Linked DNA regions of Homo sapiens. The protein of the gene in region 1 interacts with the protein of each later gene in a pairwise test. Each region holds a gene or a part of one and is shown on either strand. Other genes may lie near its edges.

Evidence for each region.
Region 2: the proteins of SPANXA1 (region 1) and EML2 interact in a two-hybrid assay, tested with the Homo sapiens proteins (one large-scale study listed by BioGRID).

Annotation. Positions count from the first base shown.
Region 1 is NC_000023.11:141,583,009-141,586,173, reverse strand, and holds SPANXA1 (sperm protein associated with the nucleus on the X chromosome A), read left to right. Parts: upstream 1-1,435; 5' UTR 1,436-1,495; coding exon 1,496-1,567; intron 1,568-2,214; coding exon 2,215-2,436; 3' UTR 2,437-2,500; downstream 2,501-3,165.
Region 2 is NC_000019.10:45,615,245-45,619,062, reverse strand, and holds part of EML2 (echinoderm microtubule-associated protein-like 2), read left to right. Parts: coding exon 1-3; intron 4-1,365; coding exon 1,366-1,433; intron 1,434-2,209; coding exon 2,210-2,298; intron 2,299-2,504; coding exon 2,505-2,602; intron 2,603-3,173; coding exon 3,174-3,261; intron 3,262-3,818. UniProt on the Homo sapiens protein: Tubulin binding protein that inhibits microtubule nucleation and growth, resulting in shorter microtubules.

The DNA.
Region 1 (3,165 bases):
CTATTTTCATTAACCAAACAATATTAAATTCCTTACTTACTAAATCTTACATAAACAAAGATAATTCTTATTTGAGCTGCATTCATAGCTTTAGAACCCTCATGCCAAATGTTGACATCTAGCAGAGATAAATAATGTATGTTGAGAATTCCAAAGCCATTTCTAATTCAATTTCACTAAAATTTTTAAAACCAGCTTGTTTATTGAAGATTTGCTTAAGTCACATGAACTTGAAAAAGCATTTGGCTTAAAGTCTATTTTTCCGAAAAGCATTAGATTTAAGTGCCTTTGTTAAGCCAATTAATTAGAGCTTTTTTCTACATTTTAAGTAGTGAAATGTCATATCCATGACACATAAATACATAGATGTATTAGACATGTAGATAGAAGTAGATCTTATAAATTCCTAAGGCCTTTATTTTTTCCTCGTATTTTAGATTTACAATTTCTTCATAACCTATTTTATTGCCCTAGGCAATTGTCAGCTAGATAGCCCTAAATGTGCATATTAAAGGAACCCTTAGGTAAAAAAAATCAGATAGTGAAATTTGCATCTCAAAGCACCGAGAGAAAGAGTCTGGTGATGTTAGAGGGAGATTGAAGATGGATGCCAAATCAAACACAAAATTGTAGAAATATAGGATTGTATAAGGAGACCAGTTGTATTTAGATAGGGACTACCTGTCTTTTAACTGGATCTCTGAGCTCTGGGCAGAGCCCACACTGAATCCTAGGTCTCCAAAAAGGGAGAATTACTATGAGGCTACACCAAGTGACGGTTTTACAGTGTACTTTTTTTTTTTTTTTTAACAAAGACATTTCTAAGTGTCCAAGCTACTTTCTTCCTTAAAAATCCAAGAATACTCTCTGTTCTAATAACTGTTTTAGTCAAAAACTTAGAATTACCATTCATCTCAGCAGTAGCCCAAAAGTAAATGGTCTTCGAGGTGCATGTGAAGGAACTGTAGGAGGGAAATGGGATAATTCACATCTCCGCCAATAAATAAATGTAGCCACACTAGCGTGGGGGATTTGAGGTGAGACATCGAAAATACTAAGTCATGGTGAGGGCTGGAAGACAAAAGAATGAATCACTTAATAGGAATGGCTGTGGGGAAGGGCTTGAAGGAATCATCCTCTGACTTCCATGTGAACCGTGAACATTAAACATGGAGAAATGAGGAGCGGCGGCAGATCGGTTTGGGATGCATCTTCAGGGGATGCTGAAACAACAGCAGCATTTGGTTTGCTCTACACCCCTGTCACCCCTCGCCCGCAAGCCCAGGGAGTGGTCAGCAGTGGGGCTTTGTGATGTGAAGCCACCCTAGGGCTGCCATTGGCTGGGACACTGCCTGTATGATCAAACAAAGCTCAAGGGTGTGGCTTTGCCTTGTCACCAGGAGGGTATACATAGGGAGGGCAAGAGCTCCGGGCCACTGAGAAGATTCAAAACCTACAAAAGCCTGCCACTGACATTGAAGAACCAATATATACAATGGACAAACAATCCAGTGCCGGCGGGGTGAAGAGGAGCGTCCCCTGTGATTCCAACGAGGCCAACGAGATGGTAAGACTGTTAGGTTCTGAAGTGAAGGCGAGGGTGAAAGAAAGACACACAGAGCGGGGGCGGCTCAAACAACAACACAGGAATATTGCAGACCATTGTGGAAGTGGGGGGCCCGCTTAATGCCAGAGCCCACCGCCGCTTACAGGCTGGGGTGCTTGTAGGTAGGGGTGGGAGGGGCCTGGGCAGTATGGCTTGCTGCCCGGCAGGATATTGATAAGATGTTCTTATGATCAGGTGGTTTGGCCCTTTTTCTGGTGGAATATCATTGTGGTGTTCCTTAGAACGCTGCCAAGCAAGATATGATAGGGATGTTTCTTCAGTTGGGCCTTTGTCCGCCTTGCGGACAGGTGGTTAGGCAGGATGTTTCTCACGGCCTGAACCCCCATGGGATGTTTCACTTTGACCAAGGTCTGCAAAATAGCAAAGAACTGACAAAATGGTGCAGTTTGGACTCACAGGTGACCCTACCCACGCTCCTCTTCTTCTTCCCCATAGATCCCTACTCTGTGCTTCAACCTTCTTCTTCTCTGGATCAAACCCCTTCCTCAACCCGCATTCCTTCTTCTCATGAAGTCCCCTTGCTATCCAGTCTCTATCCTGTTCACCCAAAATAATGTCCTCCTGGCCTCTCCCTGCTTTCTTAACAGATGCCGGAGACCCCAACTGGGGACTCAGACCCGCAACCTGCTCCTAAAAAAATGAAAACATCTGAGTCCTCGACCATACTAGTGGTTCGCTACAGGAGGAACTTTAAAAGAACATCTCCAGAGGAACTGCTGAATGACCACGCCCGAGAGAACAGAATCAACCCCCTCCAAATGGAGGAGGAGGAATTCATGGAAATAATGGTTGAAATACCTGCAAAGTAGCAAGAAGCTACATCTCTCAACCTTGGGCAATGAAAATAAAGTTTGAGAAGCTGATGGCTGTGTATATCTCTGCCTGTTTTCTGATGGTGGCGGGGGAAGGGAAGGGAAGGGAAGAGGTAGGCATTTGAGAAGGGAGGGATATGAGGTCCTGTAGGGTTGGTGGACAGACCCACAGGTTGACAGTAAGCCAGACATTGTAAATAAGGCCTGGGGGAGGACTGATTCCTAAAGAAAATTTTCTTCTTAAAATTTTATCTCACAGGAAGTGGAGATGTGTATATGTTCACGCAACTGTACCCGGCAGCACATAGTTCTGCTGAATGGACATATCAAAGGTATTCCCATCCCCTTTCCATTTGATATTTTCCTAGGCTAGAAATAGATGCTTTATAAAGAGCAAATGTTCTGTAAAACACAAAGCACAATACAAAAGAAGATAGTAGATGTAGGAGTAAGTAAACGGCAGGAAAGCATTGCTTGTGATGAAATGATTGAAAAGCCAATTCTAAAACAAAATGTTCAATGCATCTTAAATATTTGTTAGTGTTTTAATGACCTCAGCAGTCTTTAATCAAGATAAGTATACTTTAGAAATGTGTTGATATCCGCAAAGGGTGAATATTCAAAATCGCCATGACTTGGGAAAAGGAAAGTAAAACACTCTTAAGTATGAGGAGCTTTTTCCCATGGAATGTGAACTGCAAGGTGGTGAGAAGGGTTAGGTGTGAT
Region 2 (3,818 bases), on another chromosome or scaffold:
GAGGTAAGGGGCCCGGGGACTGGAAAAGCACCATTCTAACAGAACTACCTTTCCCCCTGTGTCAGGGCTCAGCACATTAGACTGAAACCAAACAAGGTCTTTTTTTTTTTTTCTTCGAGGTGGAGTCTCGCTCTGTCACCCAGGCTGGAGGGCAATGGCACGATCTCGGCTCACTGCAACCTCCGCCTCCCGGGTTCAAGTGATTCTTCTGCCTCAGCCTCCCGAGTAGCTGGGATTACAGGTGCACACCACCATGTCCAGCTAATTTATGTATCTTTAATAGAGACAGGGTTTCACCATGTTGGTCAGGCTGGTCTCGAACTCCTGACCTCGTGATCCGCCCGCCTCGGCCTCTCAAAGTGCTGGGATTACAGATGCCAGCCACCAAGCCTGGCCCAAACAAGGTCTTTTTAAGCAGGGTGGGGGTTTCATCTAGGGAACTGGGTGCTTAGAAGCTCTCTCAGAAGGGTTGGAGGAGTAGGTTCTTGACTGGAAGGGAGCCCAGGACGACACCGAACCATCCTGTCAGGGGTGCCGCCATGAGGAGGGGGGAGTCAGGAGCCGCTGAGTTCAAGGAAGGTGTGACCGCTGCAACAGTCAAGTGTAGAGCTACACTGTCCCATAGGGTAACCACTGGCCACACATGGCTATTCACAATTAATTAAAATGTAAACAGAATAAAAATTTCAGCTGGGTGTGGTGGCTGACACCTGTAATCCCAGCACTTGGGAGGCTGAGGCAGGTAGATTGTGTGAATCCAGGAGTTTGAGACCAGCCTGGGCAACATGGCAAAACCCCATCTTTACAAAAAATGAAAAAAAAAAAACAAAAATTAGCCGGGCGTGGTGGTGGGCGCCTGTAATGTCAGCTACTTGGGAGGCTGAGCCAGGAGAATCGCTTGAACCCAGGAGGCGGAGGTTGTAGTGAGCTGAGACCGTGCCACTGCACTCCAGCCTGGGCAACAGAGTGAAACTCCATCTCAAAAAAATAAATAAAAATTTAAAAAATAAAAAACAAAAATAAAGTCTTAAAATTCTAGATGCCCTTTGTCCCAGCATTCCCACATCTAGGAAATTATCTAAAGAAGTCGTCTTGGATGAATAAAGCTGTGGGAATTTAGAAGAGGAGTAAGGAGGGATCCCGGGACAGGAGTGACAGGAGGAATGGTTTCTGTTCAGGTTAACATGCTACAGAAATGTAAAGAGGAATGGCTGCCATGGTGTCTGGGGTGGGGGTGTCCCAAAGGGCAGCAGAGGGAGGGGAGAGCCCTCATGCAAAGATTAGACTTGGCCCTGAGGCAAGAGAATGTCCAGATGGACATGGGACCCCAGCTCTGAGCCCTGCCTCTTCTCTCTCCCTTCTCAGGACCCTGCCCGCTCAGCCGGCTTCCACCCCAGTGGCTCTGTCCTGGCTGTGGGTACAGTGACTGGCAGGTAAAGCTGAGGAGAGCATTTCGGGAGGCCTTCTCTGCTCCCTGGGGAACTGGCCCTTCTTCCCTCTTTCCTACTTTCCCAAATCCCACTATTTACCGAGCCCTGATCCCTCAATATTCCTCTGGCTCACTGCAGCCTCTGCCTCCCAGGTTCAAGCGATTTGCCTGCCTCAGCCTCCCGAGTAGCTGGGATTACAGGCGCCCACCACTATGCCTGGCTAATTTTTTTTTATTTTTAGTAGAGACGGGGTTTCACCATGTTGGCCAGGCTGGTCTCGAACTCCTGACCTCAAGTGATTCACCTGCCTCAGCCTCTCAAAGTGCTAGGATTACAGGCGTGAGCCACCGCCACTGTACCTGGCCTTGTTTTGTTTTGTTTTTTGGGGGGACAGAGTCTTGCTCTGTCGCCCAGACTGGAGTCCGGTGGCGCGATCTCAGCTCACTGCAACCTCTGCCTCCCGGGTTCAAGCAATTCTCGTGCCTCAGCCTCCTAAGTAGCTGGGATTACAGGCACGTGCCACCACGCCTGGCTAATTTTTGTATTTTTAGTAGAGACGGGGTTTTGCTATGTTGACCAGGCTGATTTCGAACTCTTGACCTCAAGTGATCCACCCGCCTCGGCCTCCCAGCGTGCTGGGATTATAGGCCTGAGCCACCGTGCCCAGCCCAGGTCACTTCTGGGGTCCCTCTGATCCCTCCCTTAGACCCCACAGATTGCGGCCTCTCTCTGTCAGATCAGCTCACCCCTCCTCCCCCCACCACGCCCTCTCCTTCAAGATGGCTGCTGCTGGACACGGAGACCCATGACCTGGTGGCTATCCACACAGACGGCAATGAACAGATCTCAGTGGTCAGCTTCTCCCCAGGTAAGCGGCAGGCCTGGGACACCCAAGCGGCAGGGCCAGGGGACAGAGGCTCAGAGCTCTTGGCAGGGGGAGGGGTGGAGCCTGCGAAGCGAGGCCTAGGAGGGATGCAGTGGGGATGGAGCTGGGGACTGTTGAGGGGGCTGAGTCTGGGCGAGGAGGGGATGGAGCCTGGGTGCCTCCTCATAGCCCCCCTCCCCCTCCCCCAGACGGGGCGTACCTGGCCGTGGGCTCCCACGACAACTTGGTGTACGTGTACACGGTGGACCAGGGCGGCCGCAAGGTCAGCCGCCTGGGCAAGTGCTCGGTGAGTGGGCAGTGGCCCCCAGCCCGCGCCGCCACCCCGCCCAGGGGGTGCAAAATTAACCAATTTTCTACCTCAAGGGAGCGCAGCTTCAACACTCAACTGATTCTGCCCTGATCAGAGCAAGGAGTCTTGGCCACGTCCACACATTCACCACCTCGTGTGTTCTAAGCCCGCCCCTTTGTGTAGCCCCGCCCCCACGTGCTAAGCCCATCTGTGTAGCCCCGCCCCTCACGTTCCGAGACCGCCCCTCACGTTCCGAGACCGCCCCTCTGTGTAGCCCCGCCCCTCAACATTCAAAGCCAGCTCCTCCGTGTCTAGCCCTGCCCACCTGTTCTAAACTCCCATTGTGTTCTAAGTGCTTTTTGTCTAGCCCTGCCCATCACAGTCTGGCCCCGCCCACAGTATTCTGGCCCTGCCCCCATACTCCAAAGGCCTGTGTATCCTTCCTTTAGTCCCCTTGTGTTCTCGCCCTACCTCTGTATTTGACTTCCACTTTCCTGATTTAATCCTGTCCCCCTCTCCTTGGTTCCGCCCTCTGCAGCTCTAACACCATCCCTTCCCTCCCCCGCAGGGCCATTCCAGTTTTATCACCCACCTGGATTGGGCCCAGGACAGCAGCTGCTTTGTCACCAACTCCGGGGACTATGAGATTCTGTACTGTGAGTTCTCCGGGACCCAGAGACATTACTTCCTCCGTCTCATTTGCAGACTTCCCTGAGTTCTGGGAGGGGAGGGAGGGGCTTCAAGCCTCGCTCCCTTGGTATTCAAGGCTGGTTCTGATTTGGAATTTAGGGACCGCTGGCTTCTCATTTTCTCCCTGGTATACCCCACTTTTAGTCAACTCCTCCCCTTTCCGGTCGGATGGGTAGGATGCAGGTTTCTTTTTTTACATTTTTAAATTTTTAATTATTATTATTATTATTATTATTATTATTATTATTTTGAGACGGAGTCTTGCTCTGTCCCCCAGGCTGGAGTGCAGTGGCGCGATCTCGGCTCACTGCAAGCTCCGCCTCCCAGGTTCAAGTGATTCTTCTGCCTCAGCCTCCTGAGTAGCTGGGATTACAGGAGCACACCACCATGCCCGGCTAATATTTGTATTTGTATTTTTTTTTTTTTGAGATGGGAGTTTCCCTCTTGTCTCCTAGGCTGGAGTGCAATGGCACGATGTCGGCTCACTGCAGCCTCCGCCTCCCAGGTTCAAGCGATTCTCTTG